2 separate regions of the Homo sapiens genome follow, and region 1 is linked to region 2. A link means that fine-mapping ties the variant in region 2 to the expression of a gene that starts in the linked region. Tissue or cell type: whole blood. Region 2 holds a variant in brackets; the other region holds the start of a gene. All regions are shown on one strand. Distances are between the middles of the regions.

The links. PIP is the estimated chance that this variant, and not a neighbour inherited with it, causes the effect.
Region 1: it holds the start of TSPAN2, and the variant in region 2 is fine-mapped to the expression of TSPAN2 in whole blood (TOPMed, PIP above 0.99).

Annotation. Positions count from the first base shown.
Region 1 is chr1:115,085,167-115,093,276 of GRCh38, reverse strand. It overlaps TSPAN2 (tetraspanin 2), which reads left to right and starts at 3,774. Exons shown (of 8, transcript NM_005725.6): 1 at 3,774-3,913. The coding sequence starts at 3,845.
Region 2 is chr1:115,055,562-115,063,671 of GRCh38, reverse strand. It overlaps TSPAN2 (tetraspanin 2), which reads left to right. Exons shown (of 8, transcript NM_005725.6): 3 at 1,440-1,537; 4 at 3,134-3,208; 5 at 4,691-4,789; 6 at 6,064-6,135. Among named protein-coding and RNA genes, the nearest start is that of TSHB, 30 kb to the right of the region's middle. RefSeq lists an enhancer at 817-1,340. The variant G/C (reference allele first, on the strand shown) is at 3,687.

The DNA of each region.
Region 1 (8,110 bases), 30 kb before region 2:
CAGTGTTTGCCTTTAGGAGGGATGTGGGCATAGATTGACTGGGAAGGGTTATATGAAAGCCTGAAAGCTTCCTGGGGTGACAGTAATATTCTATATCTTAATAGGATTCGGGGTTAGAAAGGCAAAAGCATTGTCAAGAATTATTAAATAATATACTTAAAATGTGTACATTTCATTGGGGTAAATTTTAGAAAAATAGTAAATAGATATTTGAACTCTAGGTAATGTTATGCATGCTCAAGAGTTTAGGAGTGAAACATACTGCCTACAATTTATTTGGAAATAAATAAAAAAAAATAGATTGAGAAATGGACAGATGTATAGATAAGTAATGCAACCAAAGCAAAATGTTTATTGTAGCATCTAGATGGTGAGTATATGGTGCTCCTTGCCCAACTATTTCAAATTTTTTGTACGTTTGAAAATATTCATAATAAAATATTGGGAAAAAATGCAAGAGAAAATATTTTTGTAACTATTTTAGGGCATGTGTGGGCAACAGTTTTAAGACCACTGGCTTCTATTTATCACCATTTGCTGAAGAATCTTTACCCTAAACTTACCATCCAAACCTTTCTCCAGAATCCAATCATATTTCCACATCATCTGGATTTCCCACCATATCTAAAACTCAGCAGATCCAAAAATGAATGTATTGTCTTCCCTCTACCAGTCAGGAATATCTTTAGCTACATGTAACAACACAAAGTCAAACAAAAAGAGGGTTATTTTTCCTATATAATAAGAAATGTGGAGTTAGGTAGCTGCTGGTATTGGTTCAGCAGTTCCACAATGTCCTAGCTGGAAGGTCTGCAATTGTCTTGCCCTTTCTTCATAGTCACAAAATGTTCTAGCACTTCAAGCATCATGTCTGAGTTCAAGACAGGAAAAAGAGAAAAGGGAGCAATGCCAGTGACAGTTTAAAGGCTAACTTCCTTATTATGTCATTTAATGTAGCCCTGTACTTTCTTATAGTAATATACCCTTGAAAATGTATGGAATGCCTTTCAGGCACAATACATACATATATGTTGATGATGGCAATTCCTCATGTTGGAAGTGGGACCTTGTGTGAGGTATTGGATCGGAGTGGATCCTTCATGAATGGCTGGATGCCATCCTCCCTATAATGAGTGAGTTCTTGCTCTGAGTTCACATGTGATATCTGGTTGTTTAAAAGAGTGTGGAACTCCCCACTTCTTTTGCTCCCACTCTCGCTGTGTACACACTGGCTCCCTGTGACCTTCCACCACAACTGAAAGCTTCCTGAGGCCTCACCAGAAGCAGATGTCAGCACTATGCTTCCTGTACAGCCTGCATAACTGTGAGCCAATTAAATCTCTTTTCTTTAGAGATTACCCAGTCTCAGGTACTACTTTGTAGCAACACAAGAATGGACTAACACACATGCGTCCACACACATACACATACATGTACACAAAAACCTAAACCTCAATTGGCTTCAGAAATGGCTAACTCAGTTATGGCGTAATATCACCTATGACTCTGGTTTTTTCAACTTCCTGCTTTGCTGTTTTCAATGTTGGATCTCTCCTCAGGCTGGTATGAAGATGGATATAGCAACTCTATGTATACCATCCAGATCCAACAGCTTCAAGAGGAAGAAGACCATCTGGCCCCTCAGTAGACACCACTCCCATCCCATTAGTCAGGATGCTTGTCAATTTGTTTCCTGAACTAACTACAAGGGAAATGGGATTACCTTCGCCTATTCCTCTCAAGGGTCAGCTTCCCTTAAGACATACAACTTTGTGAAAGGGCGACTGGGCAAGTCTATACTAAAGATCTGAAACTGTTATGTTGGACAGGCAACCACCATCTGTCTCTAATACATGTGTGCTAAAATCGTAGCATGAAAAAAACAAACAATAGATGTATATGTTACAATAGGGGTTCTCTTCCCTCTATATAATCTCTAGACATATTTTGTCTTAGAGATGTAAAATTCAACGATATATTTAAAGTATAATATCATTGTTCATTCAGTTGATTTACTGAACGCCTTCTATGTACCAGACACTACTCTTTAACTTAGTTCTTTTCCTTTATACTAAAACAGAGGTGACAGATATAGAACTATAAGTGTTTGATTGAAGCTAATGATTCACTTCTCTCTGCATACCTAATGACTTCCATCTTTGTCTTTATTTCATTGTTGGAGACATGTTTATTACTAGAATCAGCACTTTCATTTTTCTGTCTTTGACTCGTTTTTATAAATGAGTCGATATTCAAACAAATGTCCAAAGACACAGAGGTAGGCAAAGATGGCAACATGGTAGAAACTGAATGGTTGACTGATAAGAGTGTGATACAATAATACTAACCCTTATGCAGTACTTAATCTGTGCCAGGCACTGTTCTAGGCACTTCACAAATACTAACTCATTTATCTTCACAACTCTATGAGGGGAGTACTATTACCTCCATGTTGCACGTGGGGACACTCGGGGCCAATGACAGTTTGGCACATTGGTCAGCCGACTGAAAGCTGTGATTTGGCTCCTGCCTTCCTGACTCACTCTGCCCCCACCAGGCTTCACTCGGGCTAACTGCGGTTCTCAGAACTCCCTTGGAGGCCTTGTTCTCTCCAGCTCTGTGCTTTTGCGCATGCTGTCTTCCTGGACTGATCTTTTCCGCCTGGGCTCCGTCTTCTAGACCAGATCAGGCCCCTCTCCTTAGCAATGCCTTTTCTGGTTAAGGCAGTCAGGCCAGGCACACCTGTCTAGCACCCAGCCCTTCTCTCCTCACCCTATTTGCTTACAGATCTGTCTCCAACACCAGAGACTGTGGTTCTGGGCCTGGCTGTCTCCTCATTGTTGAGTCCCTGGGGCTTGCTACTATGTCTGGCCTATAATAGGCACTCAAAGTTTTGCTGAATTTATGCATAAGCTCTCCGAATTTTGCTTTCTTGTCTCCCCCATACTGTCTGACACCACATATTGTAGACACTTAGTCAATGGAAGTGGGAGTCTGATTTTCCTGCCAACAGCCTAACTTAATAAAAACAAAGCAAAACAAAAACCGCCCCCTTCCCCTTTCTCCCATCTCCACATCATAATTAAGATCCCGAAAATTTGGGATCCTTCCAAGCCCTCCGATCAGTGGAACCCGGCAGGACATGAGAAGTCAGACTCCCTCCACTGGCCGGCTGGGTTGAGGGCAGCCCACAGGACTCAGGGCGCCGCCTCCCGCACCCTCTCTCAGTTCTTGCCTATTAAGGTAAGAGTCCCCCGAGGAGGGGGGAGGGGCCGGAGGGAGGGTCCCCTAGAAGCTGCTTGTGTGCTTGCTCCGCGCCGCGGAGCCGCAGCCCTGGACACTCAGTCAGGTGCCCCGCGACTGGTCCTGCCAGCTTCGGGGCAACCTCCGACCCCACTTAGCTCTTCTACCCGAGGTCACCTTCCTAGATTTCCATAGCCACGAGACCAAGTGCTTATCCCTCAAGCATCGCCCGGGCCTCAAACCGGTCTCCGCACAGGGCGCTGATTAAATGGGTCCCCAGTCCCCGGTGGGCGCTCCCGCCCTGCAGGTGCTCCGATAGCCGGCGGCGGTGCGCCCACTGGAGGGAAGGAAGGTGGTCCCTGGGTCCGGGAGAAGAGCGAACGTGCTCCCTCGGGCTGCTCGATCTCCACCCGCTGGCGCCCCCACCCGTCGCCAGCCACGCCGCTTGGGGTCCACGCGCCCCTCCCCGCCGGGCCCCGCCCCGCCCCCCGGAGGCCCCGCCCCGGTCCTCCCCGCTCCGCCCCCTCCCCGCCGGAGCCTGCCGCTCCCCGCGCTCGTAGCGCGGGCCTGGGGACTGGGGATCCCGCCGCCGGGCCGCAGCATGGGGCGCTTCCGCGGGGGCCTGCGGTGCATCAAGTACCTGCTGCTTGGCTTCAACCTGCTCTTCTGGGTGAGACCAGGAGCCGGGAGGGCCGGTCAGGGCAGGGGGCCGGGTGGCGGGCGCGGGGCCGGGGTCCCCGAGCTGCTGACTGCGGCGTCCGAGTCGCGCTCGTGGGGAGGGCTGGGTGCTCAAACGCGGAGGCGAGGAGAAGGCAAACAAAGAGGGAGGGGAGGGATGGAAGGGAGAGAACGGGAAGACAGAAGGTTGATCAATGAGAAATGGTGAGAAGGGGAGAGACACCGTGTGGCTCTTTCCTGGAAGGAACCCCCACCTGCCTTGGTTTTTATCTCCCAGCTAGTGACCCCAGGTGCGGGGACCCAGCCTCTCCTCACCTCCGGAGGACTTGGGTCCCTGTTCCCCTCCAGTCTCCCGTGCACACACCCCCTTTTCACTCTGCCTACCAGCTGGAACCAGGGCCTGGCCAGGGTGATGGGAGAGAAACCCCTGCCCTGGGGCTGCCTGGGGTGGTGCTCCATTCGAGTGTGTGGACACTGTACCTGGCTGTGATGGTTTTGTTTAGGAAATTGGAGATAGGAGTGAAAATTGTGGTGGGGGGGCGTCGTCCTTTTTCTGGGCATCAGGGTAAGAGTACCCCTGGGTGAGAGGAGGTGGTGGGTTCTCTTCTGAGAAGGGGATGGGGAATGGAAGGGCTTCTAAAGGGCAGCAGCAGCTCTCCACAACCCCCAGCCGCAGCCTCTGCTAAATACTAATTCTCCCAGAGATGATCTCATTCAACTTTGCAGGGTTTGATTGAACTGACAGCGTTCCCAGGATTCATGGTTCACAGAGAGATAGGATCTTGACCCTTGTCTCCTATATTATCGAGACAGGGATACAGCTAGACCAGACCTACATCCCTGGATACCCTGTCCCAGGGCCTGCAGGACTGTGAGACAAGGTCTGAAAATTGTCTTTTCTGCACATTTCCTCTTGGGCTTTCTTAAGAGAATGTCAGCCAGTGTAACTGCTCAGCTAGACCCTGAGGGGAAACATTGGATAAAGAGGTTTGAGAGCAGCCAGGGCCTGGGTGCTTTGAAACTACCAGGTTGGAGGAGGTGGCTGTCCTATCTGCTCTGGGGGACGTTGTCTTCCCATGATTGCAACTAATTAATTATTGAATGATGGGCTCCTCTTTTGTCTGTCAATCCATTAGCCCAGATGCCTGGGTGACTTCAGCAACTCCAAGCTCTTCAGTATCCTTCAGCAGTGGAAGGTGTGAAGGAGGTACCTCCTCGACATCCCCTGAACTTTAAAGAGACACATGGCCTTTGTACACGTGGGGATTTACATCAAGCATACTATAGGGAGAGGCGTTTCTGAAGACCCTTTATGTTGTATTTTTTAGGAATCTGGCTTAATTTCAGAAGCTGTTAATTATAGATGTCACGCCACAGTGACAACCTTCATTCTCACTGCTTATGAATTCAAAGCCTTATGAAGTTTTAAGCCTGAGGAGGAATTCTTAAGCTGGGTTCAGTGCTTATTTAGTGGCTGATATTGTACCAGCCTTTCCAGTGATAGCTGGAAGGATTCATTGAATGTTTTCAATGTGTCAGGGACAGTGCTAAGCATATTACTTTCATTATTACACATAATCCTCACAAGAGTCCTGATATACATATACTATTATTATCCCCATTTTTTACAGATGAGGAAACAGGCTCAAATTGGTTAAGTCACCTAAGATCACACAGCTAGTGAGTGGCAGGGATGGTATTCAAACTCAGCCTACCTTCTCTTTTTTTTTTTTTTTTTTTGAGACGGAGTCTCACTCTGTAGCCCAGGCTGGAGTGCAGTGGCCCGATCTCCACTCACTGCAAGCTCCACCTCCCAGATGCACGCCATTCTCCTGCCTCAGCCGCCCAAATAGCTGGGACTACAAGCACCCTCCGCCACGTCTGGCTAGTTTTTTTGTATTTTTAGTACAGACGGGATTTTACCGTGTTAGCCAGGATGGTCTCCATCTTCTGACCTCATGATCTGCCTGCCTCAGCCTCCCAAAGTGCTGAGATTACAGGCGTGAGCCACCGCGCCTGGCCGCCTACCTTCTCTTAAGCACTGTGGTACATTCAATTAACCAGTGGTTCTCAAAAGTGGTTCCTGGGCCAGCAGCATCAGCATATCCTGGGAATTTGTCAGAAATACAAATTCTCAGGCCGGGCACAGTGGCTCATGCCTGTAATCCCAGCACTTTAGGAGGCCAAGGCAGGCGGATCACCTGAGGTCAGGAGTTCGAGACCAGCCTGGCCAACATGATGAAACCTCATCTCTACTAAAGTACAAAAATTAGCCGGGCATGGTGGTGGGTGCCTGTAATCCCAGCTACTTGGGAGGCTGAAGCAGAAGAATCTCTTGAACCCGGGAGGCAGAGGTTGCAGTGAGCTGAGATGGTGCCACATTGCACTCCAGCCTGGGCAACAAGAGCGAAACTCCATCTCAAAAACAAACAAACAAACAAACAAAATTCTCAGCTCATCCCAGACTTGCTGAATCAGAAACTCTGGGGGTAGGATCCAGCAATCTAATTTAACAAGCCATTCACATAATTCTGATCCATGCTCAAATTTGAGACCCATTCTGTTAAACAATGATTAAACAAATAATAATTTATAAATATAAACACAGTTCCCTAAGCTGCTCATCTCATTGAGGAAACGAGACCAGTGGATATGGAACAACACAAAAATAAGACAGTGTGGAATCAAGTGACAAGTTTCACACTGTTGACCGTAAGCACAGTAAGGAAAGGAAGTAGGAGCAGTGCAGTTTTAAGTGCTTGAATGTGTTAACCAGTGAGGTTAGATCCGACCTTCTCTATATGTGATCTAAGTAAGGAGTTTAGAGAAAGGATCACAGTCATGATGAGGAGCCAGAAAAGTTCTCCTTAAGAAGGAGCTATTCGAGCTAAACCTGGAAGGACTGGTAGAATGGAGCTGGGCAAAGCGAGGGGGTGACGCACCATCCACCAGCAGAGGAGCAGAGCAAGGGGGAGTGTGCGCCACCATCTGACTGTCGAAGCCATCAGGCTGGAGTGCAGAGATCCCAAGCAGGGCGTGCCTGCACAAACAGGGTGTACTTGAGCAAGTTATTGTTACTTCTAGGCTTGTTTTCTCATCTGTGCTATTGGAGTAACAGAAATATTGAGAGGATTAAGAGGGAATATATAAAGTATGTGACCTCAACTTCCTATGAGCCTAGGACATAGTAAATGCTCAAAAATATTAATTATTATTTTTGTTATCGGCACATAGGAAGCATTCAATAAATGTTAGCTCTCTTTCTCCTGATTCCTTTCTTGGTGGGGAATAGTATATAAGTTTGCCAAGTGACTTGCCATTTGTCTTCATTTGAGGATAACTACACCTTATCTTGTCAATTTGTACTTGTGGATTTTCCCCACTAGAACTTAAAACACTCTGAGAGCAGGAATTTTGTTTTTTCTGTTTTGCTCATAGCTGTATCCCCAGTGCTAGAATAGTGCCTAGCATATAGAAGGCATGCAGTAGGACATGAAGGACCTTCCTCTCCCCCAGTTTCATGGGGGGTGGGGGTGGAGGCAGCAACTAGAGCGAAGAGGCAACTGAAACAGGCACCTCATGACTTAAGGGAAAGTGTGGGATAAAGTATCTAGATATCTGCCTTCACTGTAACTGAGGGAACCTGATTCCAGAAAAGCCCCACTCAAGTTTCTAAAGTTGTTTTTTTGTGGTTGGAGGGCTTCGTGGGAAGTTTGGGAAAGGGGTGGGGGATAGTTTTCCTAGAAGGCCAGACTTTAGCTGTGACTGAAGTATAAATTTACACACACCCTTAGAAGCTCATGTGCCTGCCCCTCGGAGTTACGGGGTTCCTTGGGTGACAGCACTTCCTTCCAATCAGAACCTCGCCAGAAGTAAGCATAGAGGTGGGACAGGTTCTGTTTGGTGATCTGCGATTTAACAGATCAATTTGCAGCCTCCTCTGGCAGCTTGCTTTAAGTTTCCCTAGGCTGTGCTCCTGGTTTCATAAACATACAACCAGGCCCTGCCAGAGCCAGCACAGTATTCCCTGGCCCAGGGCCGCTGACTGTACTCACCACTGAATTTTTAAAAACAAAATAAAGCCTAGCCATTAACCCCACTACATTAATTTCTCTTATCGTGGTTGATGTCAAATGTGAAACCCCTCCCAACATCTGTCATGTCTAAATTCAGACCTGCGATCAGATAG
Region 2 (8,110 bases):
CCATTGATGGGCACCTGGGTTGATTCCATACCTTTGCCGTTGTGAATAGTGCTGCAGTGAACATGTACCCTTTTGACAGAATGACTTATTTTCCTTTAGGTATTTACCCAGCAATGGGATTGCCGGGTCGAGTGGTAGTTCAACTCAGTTGTTTGAGTCATCTCCAAACTGCCTTCTGCAGTGGCTGTACTGATTTACATTCGCAACATTGTATAAAGTGTCCCCTTTACTCCCAGCCTTGCCAACATCTGTTATTTTTGACTTTTTAACAAAAGCCATTCTGACTGGTATGAGATGGTATCTCATTGTGGTTTTGATTTGCATTTCTCTGATGATTAGAGATGACGAGCATTATTTCATGTTTGTTGCTCGCTTGCATGTCTTCTTTGGAGAATTGTCTGTTTATGTCTTTTGCCCACTTTTTAATGGAGTTATTTGCCTTTTGCTTGTTGATTTGTTTAAGTTCCTTACAGATTCTGGATATTAGACCTTTGGTGAAAGACATTTTTAAAACAATAAAGTGTTGAGGTAGTGGGGCCAACAACACTATTATTTTTAATATGATATCATTTCTCACATTACCACATCCATTCCCTCATGAAATTATTCTTTTAGAGAAAAGGGAAAGGGAGGAGGTGGTAGAGCTAGAACAGCAGGAAATAAATACCCACCTCAGGACTGCAGAGCAGCAAGGCCTCAGGGCCCTGAAAAGAACGCTGAGGCCAGGTCCGGGTGGGGCAGGAAGCAGAGCAGCCTCGCCTGTGGCTCCTACTAGGTCTGTAAACTGCCAGATCTGCCCGCAAACCACCATCAGCAACCCAGAGGCGCCCCAGGAAGCACCCTGAATGCCAGGCCCAGGGGTTCCCCACAGAGGCGGGGCACCAGCCCCCACCCTCCCTATTAATGGGAGTGGTTTCCAGGTGACTCATATGAGTAAAATGCAAAAAATGAAATAGAGACCATTAACATGATTCCAAGTAAGACAAGTGCCAAGTCCCATATTGTATTCTAACTTATCTCAGGATCAGAGAAGGAAATACAAAAAGGCTTGGCTTTAGTTCTCTCAGAACCAGAGCATTTCTGTCCTTTTCTTTCTCTGTAAGAACTGTACGTGGGGCTTGCCTAAGCAGTAAGTGAAATCCCCACCTGAATGATGGCTGCCTCCATCACTAGAGATGCAAGACAGAGTCGGAGTGTTGGGCAGGCTTTTGAGGCTCATGGCTATTTTTCTCCCGGCTCTGCCAAACACCAGCTCTATGACCTTAAGCAAATCGCTTTACCTTTTGGGGCCCAGTTCCTCCGTGTCAAACATGGCAGTAAGAATAGCACCTCCTTTTGGTACTATTAGAATGCTCTGCAGTGCCCAGAGTCTTAAGCCTAGTTGGTCGTGGAGGCACTCGGTTGGCTCTCAGTGGTCTCCTCTGACCTCTTCCCCACAGGGCTGTATGTTCTGGTTGGAGCCGGGGCCCTGATGATGGCCGTGGGGTTCTTCGGGTGCTGCGGAGCCATGCGGGAGTCGCAATGTGTGCTTGGATCAGTAAGTGGGGCGAGGGGGTAAATGGTGGGGTGGGGGTGAGGGAGCGGCCTGCATCTGAAGGGAGTCAGTGCCTCTGGCCCCTGGCTCCAGCTCCTCCGTGGACTCTCTGAGCCCTTGGCATGCACTTTTCCTCCCTCAGTCTTGGTTTCTCCATCTCTTATATATGAATAATACTAACTAGGGCCGGGTGCCATGACTCACGCCTGTAATCCCAGCACTTTGGGAGGCTGAGGCAGGAGGATCTCTGGAGCCCAGGAGTTTAAGACTAGCTTGGGCAACACAGGGAGACCTAGTCTCTACCGGGTGTGATGGCACACACCTGTGGTCCCAGCTACTCAGGAGGCTGAGGCAGGAGGATCACTTAAGACCAGGAGTTGGGAGGCTGCAGTGAGCCATGACTGTACCACTGCACTCCAACCTGGGCGACAGAGCAAAACCTTGTCTTGAAAAAAGAAAAAAGAAAAAAAATATTATCTTTGTTCCTGCCTTATATGGGAAGTGTGAAAAGAAATGACGTCATTGGTGTAAAGATGTTTTGGGAGTAAAAGTACTTAGTAATTGTAAGGGGTGACTATGATTGTTCTTTAAAAAAAAATATTTCACAGTGGGTGAGGCAGCTAAAAGGTTTCTATAGCCAGGGAAGTGCTGTTATCTACAAGGAAAACATTTATGTTTGAGATCAATAACTTAACCAAAATCCCTCTTGTGGCTTATTTTAACAAGCAACCTCTGTTTAAAACAAAAATCAAATAATTTCAATTAACTGCTATACATTCTATGTCAGTGTAGCCTGAGAGAAACAGAAAGGAAGAAGAGGGGCAGGAGGAGAGAAAGTGTTGATATTTCTCCACAGGGAGTCAGAAACAGCAGTTTTAATAGGCAGCCTCTCATCTCTCATTACTTATTGTGATATTTGGATTTTTAACTCTGGCCGTAGCCTCTGATCTCTTGCTATGTGAAATGTCTGACTTATTTCTTTGCCATTCATTCCTTCTCTTTCTCCTACTGTTGAGCACATTTCTGTCTTGTTTATCACTGAACTTAGTTTGATCAGAGCAAATCCATAGACCAGAACAGAAATCCATCCAGAAGGACACCCCTCACCTCATCTCCTCAAAGAAGCCTTTCCAGACCACAGAATCTCCAGTCACCCCCTTCCCCATGCCCAGGCCGCATCAGTGATGCTCCCTCTCCTGACCTTATTTTATATCTTTCTAGGTCTTTTGTGTTCGTCAAGTATTTACTAAGCACGTAGGTGCCAGGTGGTGTTCTAGGTGGTGGGATTTTTACATCACTACCTGAACTTATCTTATTCACTTTTTAACTTCTTTACACAGTTATCGTATATTCCTCTGTCCAATCCAAGGTCCGTGATAACAGAGACATTTGGATATTATCTTGTTCACCACTGAATAGTCAGCACCAAGGACAGTACCTGGTGCAGAATAAATGCCTAATAAACAATTGCTGAATGAATGAATGAATGAATGAACCACATGAAAGCGATTCAGCCATTACATAAGGAAACTAAGGTGCAAAATATATAAATTGAAAAGGTATTAAATTAATGAAATTAGTATTTTCTCTCCTCTACAGTTTTTTACCTGCCTCCTGGTGATATTTGCTGCTGAAGTAACCACTGGAGTATTTGCTTTTATAGGCAAGGGGGTAGTAAGTAAAATTACTTATAATGTTTTTCTATGATGGTTAAAAGTGTTAGAATATTGATACCCACAATAGTGTTAAGAAACCAAATAATCCCCATTATTATAGTTTAAACAGAACTTTTTAACTTAGAAGTGGTGTGCAGAACTGAGCATATATGTATATGAGTGTGCAGGCATATATACATGCTCACATTTTTCTGGGGAGATAGTTCATCTCTTCCATTAGACTTATGAAGTGGTCTATAATAAAACCAAAAAAAAAAGGATCTCTAATTTAAGATTCTTCCCCATTGTGAAATGGGGTAACAGTTAGAGTACAGACTTGAGAAAGAATCTAGATTCTCATCCCCTGTCAGACTGCCATTTGTCCTTAAGGATTGGCCTGGATGGGTCCATTTCATTCTCAAAGAGCAGAGCCTACACTGCTGTGGGCTAGTGAAGCCAGTTTATATTTGCTGCCCAACTCTAGGTGTCCAGAATAG[G/C]TTATCGGGGGGACACACAGAGGAAGTAGCCTTTCTTCCTCTGTAAAACACACTGTGGGATAGAAGAGAATGGAATGGAAAAGGAGGAAGAATGGAAACTTAAGTTTGGTGTATTTCACATTAACTCTTGTGTCATTAATATTATGTTTCTGAACTTATTTTAGACTATAAAACAGTAAACATGTAGAATAGTAAATGTCACCTCCTTTTGAATTTTTCTAAAGTAACTGGCTGTGTTCATAGGTTAGTTTAAATTCAGCTACATACAGAAGTAGAATGGAATCTTAGGACCTGTTGAGATATCTGTGGATTTGAAATCACAAGCTTTTATACTAGAAAAAGCATTCTCTAAGCTTTATATGATATCTGAATGTAGAAAGTTTTCCTTGGTGATGAATACCTTTTAAACCACGTCATAAAAAGATTTGAATGCTTTTAACCAATGGGGTAACAGGAATGTATAAGTCCGGATCCTAGCTATGCATCCAAATCATCTGGATGGAGCCCAGGAATCTGGGGCCCAGTTGATGCTGAAGCCCAGTTGGGCTTGGGAACTGTCAGAAATCTTTCTAGTCCATGAAAACTGTTCTGGTTAGTCTGTCCTTCCATCCTCAAAAGCATCTTAGAAACTCCAGAAACTATAATCTTCTCCATATGTTGCTGAATTATCCTAAAATACCTATGGAAAGGCAGTATTTTTTTTTATTTCTACAGGTTTTGTGGGGAACAGGTGGTGTTTGGTTACATGAGTAAGTTCTCTAGTGGGGATTTCTGAGATTTTGGTGCACCCATCACCCGAGCAGTGTACACTGTACCCAATGTGCAGTCTTTTATCCCTCACCTCACTCCTACCCTTTCCCCTGAGTCCCCAAAGTCCATTGTATCATTCTTATGAGAAAGGCAGTGTTTTTCAAAGGTGTGGAAGAGGAGATTTTCCTTGATGAAAGGAGAATGTTTGAAACTTCCCACCCAGAAGTCCTTCATTTTTCCTTGTATTTCTTCAGGCTATCCGACATGTTCAGACCATGTATGAAGAGGCTTACAATGATTACCTTAAAGACAGGGGAAAAGGCAATGGGACACTCATCACCTTCCACTCAACAGTGAGTAACTTCACTTCTTCCTTAAAATCACAGCTTCTAAAGATTATGTGTGAGCCAGGTTCTCACCAATCACCAGGATTAAAAATAAAAATAAATTCAGTAAAGCCAAGTAGCACCACCTATTTTAGCCCTTTTGAGGGCCACAGTTTGCATTATGTGTGGAACCCTAGAAGGGAAAGATGTCTATCACACAGAGTTCACAAGAGAGACAGAAGAGCATGAACCCAAAAGACACATGCCCCAAAGAGACAAAAGAGCACAAACAAGGTTACAGAGAAAGGAGCCCAGATAAATAGCAGGCTTTGTCAGAGGGTAGCATTGTGGTGTAACAGAAACAAGTGTGACCTGTAAGTCAGAAAAGCTAATTTCTAGCTGCAGCTCTACCATTCAACAGCCTTGTGACCTTGAGCAAGTTACTTGGCCTCCCTGATACCCACGCAGCTCCCTCATTTGTAGAATGAAGGGTCACAGGAGATGGCTACACTCCCTTCTGGAACATTCAGTGGGACTGTGCTGTCCGTGGAGTGCTCAGAGCTACATGCAGTTAATCACAGAAGGCTTACAGAGGAGATGGGCCAGGCCAGAGTTATTCTGATTTTTTAGACACTGTGATATGAAGAAGTAGCTGTGAATTCCTGGGCCAGGTGTTTTCAGGTACCTAGTTCTTGTCTAGGACAAGTATGTCTTGGAAAGTGGCCACCATTTATACATTTATACGGTTTCACCTCAGCTGCCGCCAGGACCTGAAGCAGCACACAGGTTCTTTTGTCTTAAAGGGCCAGCTAGCCTAAGCAGGACACCTGTTTGCTGGCCAATCTTCAAATCTGGTCTTTTGGACCCTGGAATTTCCTGCAGCCACTTCTCCCCTCTTCCCCAGACTATTCCCAGCTAATGAGTCCTTCTGCAGCTCATAAAACTTGAGCTCCTCAGCAGGTTAAATGACTCCCAGTCTGAAAGAAGGAATCTAAAGCCCCAACCCCTTTCTAAAAAGTAGCAATTTACACAGACACTGTCAATTAGCTTCTTGCCTTGTTTGGGTTGCCTTGAGTCACTTCCCATCATAAACTCAGATGGCTTTAGCGAAGTCATTTTCTTGTTTTGCCAGCATGATTATGTGATTCTTCACTCTCCTTCCAGAAATAGCAGTCTGGGTTGCAGTGACTGGGCCTCGGAGCTGCTTTGCCGCCTCGGCACCCCAGTCCTTAGCAGGGTGCCCAGACTTGTAGCTGCTACTCCTCCCGCCTGGTCCTGAAGTCTCTTTTCTGACTCTCTAGTTTCAGTGCTGTGGAAAAGAAAGCTCCGAACAGGTCCAACCTACATGCCCAAAGGAGCTTCTAGGACACAAGGTAAGCTTCTACCAAGGTTCTTACTCTACCTGTAGTATCATGCTGCTAGCTTAGGAAGCCATTGAAGGTAGAATCTCGGATGGGATCTGCATTTTACTGAATTTGCTCTAGTGGCAGCATAGAGGATTGATGGAAAATGAATAGCGTTGAGCTGAGAGACCCATTGGGAAGGCTGCTGTCCTTGTTGTTAGCAAGAGATGTTAAAGAGGGCCCTTTAGAAAGTGACAACTACAGGAGTGGTGACCAGAGAAGAGAGGAGAATCCATTACTGGGTTTTTGGCTTCACCACCTACATAGATGATGGTGTCATTTATGGAGCTGAGGGAGAGAGGAAAAGGAGCCAATTGTGGAGAAAAGAAAATGAGCTTTGTGTTTAACATGGTGATTTTGAGGAGCCAGTGGCACTTCCAAATGGAAATATCCAGTAGGCAGTTGGAAAATCTGGTTTGTGGCTCAGGAGAGAGGTCTGAGTGTCAGCACTTGATGGGAAACTTAAAGCTATAAATACGGATTTGATCCATTAGACTTGGAAGAAAAGAAGGATGAGGATAGATCCTTGGGGGACAATTTAAGGGTGGGCAAAAGAAGAGATGCCAAAGAAGGAAACTGGGAGGGGCGGCCAGACACAAGTGAGGAGACAGCACGGGAAGGGGAGGGAATGGTCACCAGGCCCAGGTGCTGCTGTTGAGGGCAATTCAGTATTGATCAGCTGCCTACCTTATGTTCGGCACTGTGGATGCAAAGGAGAAGGAGAAAAAGTTCCTACTCACAAGGAGCTTGCATTGCAGTCTGATAGGAGGGATGAACATGAAGTCCATACGGTCCAGTGATTAGGAATGCATGGAATGTGCAACGTGCTCGGAAAGCACAGAGGGAAACGCACTTAGGAGAGGCGAGAGGCTGGGGGATGGGGAAGGCTGACAGAGGTAATGATGTCTCAGCTAAATCTTCAAGAATGGAAAGTAATTATGCAAGCATTGGGCAGAAAGCGGGAGGGGGAGGCCTGCGTGCCGAGAGACCAGCGTAAGCAACAACACAGAGGCAGAAATGACATGGTTTGTGTGGGGAACTGAAAGCCTAAGAAGGTCTACTAATAACTGCTGAAAAGCTGGCAGGATTTAGCATGCAAGGAACCAACTGGTGACGTGCTGTGAGGGATGGATTGAGGACAGAGCCCAGGTTTCAGAGAGCGAGATGTGAGGAGAGAGAGCATCCTTTCAAGAAGTTTCGATTTGAGCCAAGGACACAGAAAGAAAGTTTACAAAAGTCAAAGTCCAAATTACCATTAAACATATAGAAAATATAGAAAATTAAAAGTAATATTTAAAATCAATAGCAAATTAAAATGAAGAGATGCTGTTGTTTAATCTATGAAATTGACCAAGTGTTTTTCCTTTCCCTTAACAATAATACACAGTTTTGGTAAACGTGATGTCGTGAGCATTTTCAGAGAAATTAGTAAATAGTTTTAAAGGTCAGTATGACTATGTAAGACTAGAGGATTAAGTATGTTTATGCCCTTCTATCCAGAAATTCCACTTCTCGGAGTTTATTCTAAGGAAAAGGAATCAGAAATGCAGACAGACGTTTTTGTGCAAATCATGCTCATTACATGTTATTCATAAGAACAAAACACTGGACAGACCCTTAATATGTGGCAATAGGGGATTGTTTGGATAAATTGTAGTATATTCATATGATGAAATGTTTTACCACCATTAAGAATCATGATTTCACCTGTAATCCTAGCACTTAGGGAGGCAGAGGCAGGCAGATTGCCTGAGCTCAGGAGTTTAAGACCACCCTGGGCAACATGGTGAAATCCCGTCTACTAAAAATACAAAAATTAGCCAGGCGTGGTGGCATGTGCCTGTGATCCCAGCTACTCAGAAAGCTGAGGCAGGAGAATCACTTGAACCTGGGAGGCAGAGGTTGCAGTGAGCCGAGATCGCGCCACTGCACTACAGCCTGGGTG